2 separate regions of the Homo sapiens genome follow, and region 1 is linked to region 2. The links come from fine-mapping of genetic effects on gene expression. Tissue or cell type: whole blood. Region 2 holds a variant in brackets; the other region holds the start of a gene. Each region is shown on its reference strand, or each on the opposite one. Region 1 holds the start of TNFRSF18 (TNF receptor superfamily member 18). Region 2 holds the start of HHEX (hematopoietically expressed homeobox).

Region 1 (2,893 bases), not on the chromosome of region 2:
GACAGGATGGGTGTCCCGGGCCTGAGAGCCAGACAGCTCCTGGAACCCGCCCCCACCTCCCCGCAGGGTTCTCACAGCCCTCGTGCTGGATGGAGAAGCCCAGGCTGAGAAAGCAGGGACAGGACACCCCCAGAGCTTCATGGCCTGTGGTGCCTGAGCATGGCCTGGCCTGCCCGGCCTCACAGGACTCCGGACCCCACACACCACATGTCCTCGCCGGACACCTGTGCCCACGAGCTCTGCCTCGGGCCCTAGTGGAACCCCTGGCCTGTGTGGACTCCCAGAGGCACCTCCAGGACTTACCCTGGGACTGTACCCCCTGGCCTGGGGGACAAGGGTGGTGCCGGCAGGTCGTGCAGCAAGGGTCTCCGCAGTGGAATTCAGGCTGGACACACATGCAGTCCCACTCGGAACAGCACTCCTCGCCTGGGCAGGAGACAGGCCAGCCCCCCAGCAGCTGGGCTGAGGCCCCCTCCTCCCCAGGCCTCCCCTCGGCCCTCCAGGGGAGTGAGGTTGTCCGTTCTCCACCCACAGTTGGCTCCAGGGAGCAGAGGGCTCCTGGCTGGGAGTCTGGACCCTGGGTTTATCCAGCTGTCTCTTTCTCCTGGGGCCATGTGGCCTGGCTACTCCCCCTTTGCGCCCCACAGCTGCCCCTGCCCAGGTGCTAACTCCATATGCAACCAGGAGCTGCCCCTGCAGGACCCAGGGGTGGCCCCCAACAGTGCACAGTCCCCTGGAGGCCCGTCGACACCTCAGAGGCCGCCTGCCTGGTGTCTGGGCGCTGCTGTCCCCACCACCAGCCACACTGGGCCTCCGGACAGAGCCTCCCTTCCCAACCCACAGGCCCTGGAGGAAGAAGCTCTGGGGTGACTTCCCTGCCAGCTTCCTCTCCAGACCAGCCGTGTCAGCTGAACCCTCATCCCCAGGTGCAGGTCAGAGGCAGGCAGCAGGCCAGACGGTGGTGCAGGGGGGCCCTCAACTGGGCAGGAGGGGGCTGGGCGATGGCCAAGGGCTCACGACCCGCCCAGCAGGACCTGGAACAGCCGTCCTCCACCTCCAGACCCCAGACCCCTCTTGAGGGCGCTCCCACCTGGCTCACCCCTGCTCCCGGCCGGGGCCACTGGCTGGAGCTGGCACACCTCCGCCTCCCTCTGGGATCCTGCCTCCCTCCGGAAGGCTCCCGCTGCTGGCGGCTCTGTGCCCACCCTCCTTAGACCTCAGCAACGCCGGTCTGAGCACGGGAAGGGGGGCGCCCACCCATCCCGGCTTCCGCGGGACGCCTTGGCCGGTCCGCGTTAAGTAAACGCGGTTTACTTACCCGGGTAATCGCGGCAGCAGCGCGTCGTGTGAACCCGGCAGCAGCGCGCGTCCGTTCCCGTCCCAAGCAGGAGGCGCCCAGGGCCGCACCCGGGACCCCCGGTGGGGCGCTGACCCAGGCTGAGCGCGCACAGCAGCGCCAGGCCGCACAGGGCCCGAAACGCGCCCATCGCCCCGTGCTGTGCCATGCTCGGGTTTCAAGAGCCCACAGCCAGTTGGACACGCCCCGTCCCCGTCCTCACCCGCCCTGCCCGGAGGTGGCTGGGACCGTTCATGACCTGAGAATCCCGACCCAGGTGAAGTGCGTGTGAGGAGGGGGTGTAGACACTGCGGACACAGCCCGGTCCCCCGCAGGTCGCCGGCAGGGGCGGGGAAACCAGGCTGGCGGGGATCAGAAAGGTTTTCTATGCAAAGTCTGCGGCCACATTGGTGTCCCCAGTGCAGGGGGCGGCGTTTATAGCACCTTGTCCCATGGGGGCCCCTTGGAGGGCGGGGGTCAGCCAATCACTCCTCCATCCCACTGCCTCCGGGTGGTATCTGCGAGTCCCCGAGAGGTCTCCACAAATTCTGGCCACCCCCAGAGAGCCTCAACCATGGAGCCCCGTGCTGGGGAACCCCACAGAATGGGGACAGGGACCCCTCGGCTCAGCACACCCCACCTGGCTGGCTTCAGGTGTGAAACTCACCATGGGCTGCAGGCCTGTGGGCTCCCCTCCCCCTTGCTTGCAGCTCTCCAGGACCCCCCTCAGGCCAACCTGGGAAGTTCCCCGGGGCTTGGGAGGGGCACCAGGAGGAGCTGGTGGGGAGACGAGAGGGTGCTGGCGCCTCCTCGGGACAGTGTCAGCCGCCCCCGCGGGCACCCAGGGCCCGGTCTCTCAGAGCCACCTTCATCCGTCACACCAGACAGATCCAGGTCCCGGAGGGAGTTGAGGAGGAGCCCCTCGCAGAGCTCTTGGGAGACTGTCCTATGTCTTTCTGAGCCTCAGTTTCCCCTGTGGGCACCGAGGGGTTCTGGGACCCTGCCTCCACCAGGAAGCCTCCCTGGATTGCCCAGCCCTGCTTCTGCGCCGTCCAGCACAGGTGGAGACCCCCATGAATGCTGGGGGTGGGGGCTCTCGGGAACGTGAGCGTGGATGTGGTTCAACACCCTTTTGAGACCTGCAGCCACCGCCTCACCCCGTAAGGCGGTTCCTCCTTTTCCAAGGTAAATGACAGGAATTAGCTGTTTGTGACACCCCGGAGTTCTCAAATCCAAGATGTAGGAGCCTGCCTTGGAGAGGCAGCCCTCAGACACTGCAGAGAAGGAAGGGGTCTCTGCAGCTCCAGGCCGCCCCGACGCTCGGAAGGAAAGGGGTGGGGCCAGCTGGGCCTGGGGGCCTTTGAGAGGCCTGGAGATCTTCAGCCCCGAGGCTGGGAGGGGGTCTGGGCCCCTGGATAGAAAGAGGCGCCATCAGTGGCTCACGCCCGTAATCCCAGCATTTTGGGAGGCCGAGGTGGGCCTCGGATCACCTGAGGTCAGGGGTTCGAGACCAGCCTGACCCACATGGAGAAAGCCCGTCTCTACTAAAAATACAAA
Region 2 (2,893 bases):
GGGCACTGTCCCGCTCTGAGCTCGGGAAACGGCCGGTGTGACAGCCAGCGCCACTGTTAATCCAGGGAGCGCACCCACCGAGGAGGCGTCTTAGGCCAGCGGCCTCTGCTCCCGCCGAGTCCCGCTGCTCCCCGCCTGGAAACAGCTGCTGCCACCCCGGGCCCAGGCCTGGACGGCGCCCCCGAATTTCGGCAGAGGTGCCTCGGGGCCGCGGACAGGGCCGCTGGAGCCCGCACTCCAGAAGGCGGTCTTCCTCGCGCCTCCCCCGACGGACGCGGCCCAGGGCTTCCCTCGAGGGCGTCCTCGGCCGGGGTGCCTGGAGTCCCCAGGGGCGACAGCCGCGGCGGGGCACCAGGGCGCCAGTTCCCCGGAGCCTGGTAGCAAGCGCGTCCCGGGGGCGGGGAGCTTGGCCGGCGGGGCGGGCCGGGGTGGGGGCGGGCGGCTGCTCTTGGGGCCCCGCGCCATTGGCCGCAGGGCCCGGCGGCAGGAAGGGGCCAGCGAGCGCGGCCCCACCCCGCGGCCGGCGGAGCCTATCGCCGGGAGCGCGGAGCGCGGATAAATGTAGCGCCGCGGCGCGGGCCAGCAGCTCTGCGAGGGGCCGGAGCGCGGCGGAGCCATGCAGTACCCGCACCCCGGGCCGGCGGCGGGCGCCGTGGGGGTGCCGCTGTACGCGCCCACGCCGCTGCTGCAACCCGCACACCCGACGCCCTTTTACATCGAGGACATCCTGGGCCGCGGGCCCGCCGCGCCCACGCCCGCCCCCACGCTGCCGTCCCCCAACTCCTCCTTCACCAGCCTCGTGTCCCCCTACCGGACCCCGGTGTACGAGCCCACGCCGATCCATCCAGCCTTCTCGCACCACTCCGCCGCCGCGCTGGCCGCTGCCTACGGACCCGGCGGCTTCGGGGGCCCTCTGTACCCCTTCCCGCGGACGGTGAACGACTACACGCACGCCCTGCTCCGCCACGACCCCCTGGGTAAGGCGGCCGGGCGAGGGTGGGGGCGAGGAAGCGCCACCCGGCAGGTGGCAGCGCCCGGGAGGCCGAGGGGGCGAAGGGGGCAGGCGGTAGACGGCTGTGGCAAAAGCGATGGAAAAGCAGCTGTC[G/T]GGCACGCGCGGGGACGGGAGGCGCGCGGCCGGGGCTGACCGCACCGTGACTCAGATTGGTTTTCCTGCACCTTGCAGGCGTCGGGGCGCGCGGGCCGGCGGTAGACCTCGCGGCGAGGGCAGCCGTGGACCGCGCGTGTTACCCGGGGTGGGGCTCCCTTAGCGGGAGGGACGGGGAAAGGGGCGTCGAGGCGCCCCTGGCCGGCCCCCGTGGGGCAGGGATCGCAGCCGGGCCCGGGTGGCTACGGGGCTGGACCTGGTTCAACAGGCTTGTGCAGTGAAAGAGCCTGACCCTTTCCGTTCATACAGGAAATCTTGAGTTCTCGATAGGAGTAAATCTGGTTTCAGAAGCTGTTAAGTGTTTTCCTGGCTGCATGAAGCAGACCCTTCCCCCGGAGTAGTGCACGCTGCTGATTATTTTATCGACATCCTCAATACAGACAAATTCAGGAAACACTCGACTTCTGATAGCCGGGATCCGTTTTTCTGATATTGTTCATTTCCTCTGTGTGGGATGTGACTTTATGGCAGCTAAAATAACCAGTTGCTTCCTATTTTTTTTCGAGGCTGTTTTGCACCAGTCTGAAGCCTGACGCAAGCAAAATCTCGAAAAAACAATGCTAGCTTTCAAAGCGTTGAGGTGCAGGCCTGCAGACGGACGGACGGACCGACCGACACTACTTTGGGAGTAGGAAGCAGCAGCTCCTGGTCGCCAGTTAGGAAGGGAAGCAGGGACACATAGGGCATATATTCCAGAACTTCGGGGCTTGTCCCCTCAATGTGCGGCCTAACAAATAAGCCGCCCGTGGTCCGCGCTGTGGGTGACCCTTGGCGCCTTCGAGGTCTGGAGCCCTAGGGTAAATAAGGAAACGGGGCGCCTCTAGAGTTTTAAATGAACTCTGTTATTGGAAGCTTCAGTAGGGACCCTGAAAACAATTAACGTCTTAATTAGCATTTTAATGTCTCCATTATTACGGCGCGGGCTCTAGCTCAGCCCTTTACCTTACCTTCTCACCGTTAACAGGGGAGGGGGATTGTATTTTTAGTTCATCTTTTTATGTTTTTGAGTTGTTATCCTGTCTGTCTGATTCCAGCCTCGAGGGTTTGATGATGCGGCCCGAGCCTGGCTGTGGTCGCCTGTCGGGGCTGGAGCGGGACCCTCAGCCGGGCCGGGCCTGGGGGCTAACGTTTTCACAGTGCGCCCTGAGTTTCCTTGGGTTACTGCTGGGACCGCGCAGGAGGAAGCAAAGAGTTTTTCGAGCTAGACCAACAGGAAACACATTGACGGAAATGTTGCCATAGCCCATGGGGTGGCTTTAACTGGCCGCCCCCGCGGGCTGGGTGTGAAATCAGAGGAGGCCGCGGCTCCCCCGGCCAGGATTGGAGGCTCCTCGCGCAACCTAATGCGGGTGTCCGGGCCCGAGCGCTTCCCGCGCAGCCAGGCCTTGTCGGTGCAGCAGCCCCGCTCCTCCCCAACACGCACACACCCGGTGTTCGCAAGTGCGGCTCACCAAGGGAGATCCAAGGGGGCAAAAAGTTATGTATAAATCCGAGAGCCACTGGGGAAAGAGGGTCGTGGTATTGTAAGCCCAGCCGGTAGTGCCCATTCTTTTTGGGGTTAAAGGTATGTCTGGATTTAGTTCTAGGTGTGACGGCTGTGTGTCTGTCTGTGTGTGTACAAGGCTGTGTGCATCTGCGGTGTCAGTGTGTGACTTTGGGTATGTTTGTGTGTCGGTGGGAACGTGTTAGGTCCACGTGCCGGTGGGTGTATGTGAATGTGTCTGGTTG

Evidence for each region. PIP is the estimated chance that this variant, and not a neighbour inherited with it, causes the effect.
Region 1: TNFRSF18 starts here. The variant in region 2 is the best candidate, but not a certain one, in a credible set for the expression of TNFRSF18 in whole blood (TOPMed, PIP 0.67).

The regions. Positions count from the first base shown.
Region 1 is chr1:1,205,067-1,207,959 of GRCh38, forward strand. TNFRSF18 (TNF receptor superfamily member 18) reads right to left here and starts at 1,526. Exons shown (of 5, transcript NM_004195.3): 1 at 1,319-1,526; 2 at 304-426. The coding sequence starts at 1,505. RefSeq lists a silencer at 109-309.
Region 2 is chr10:92,689,371-92,692,263 of GRCh38, forward strand. It overlaps HHEX (hematopoietically expressed homeobox), which reads left to right and starts at 585. Exons shown (of 4, transcript NM_002729.5): 1 at 585-977. The coding sequence starts at 617. RefSeq lists silencers at 76-315, 386-705, 1,126-1,205, 1,216-1,365 and an enhancer at 1,896-2,703. The variant G/T (reference allele first, on the strand shown) is at 1,106.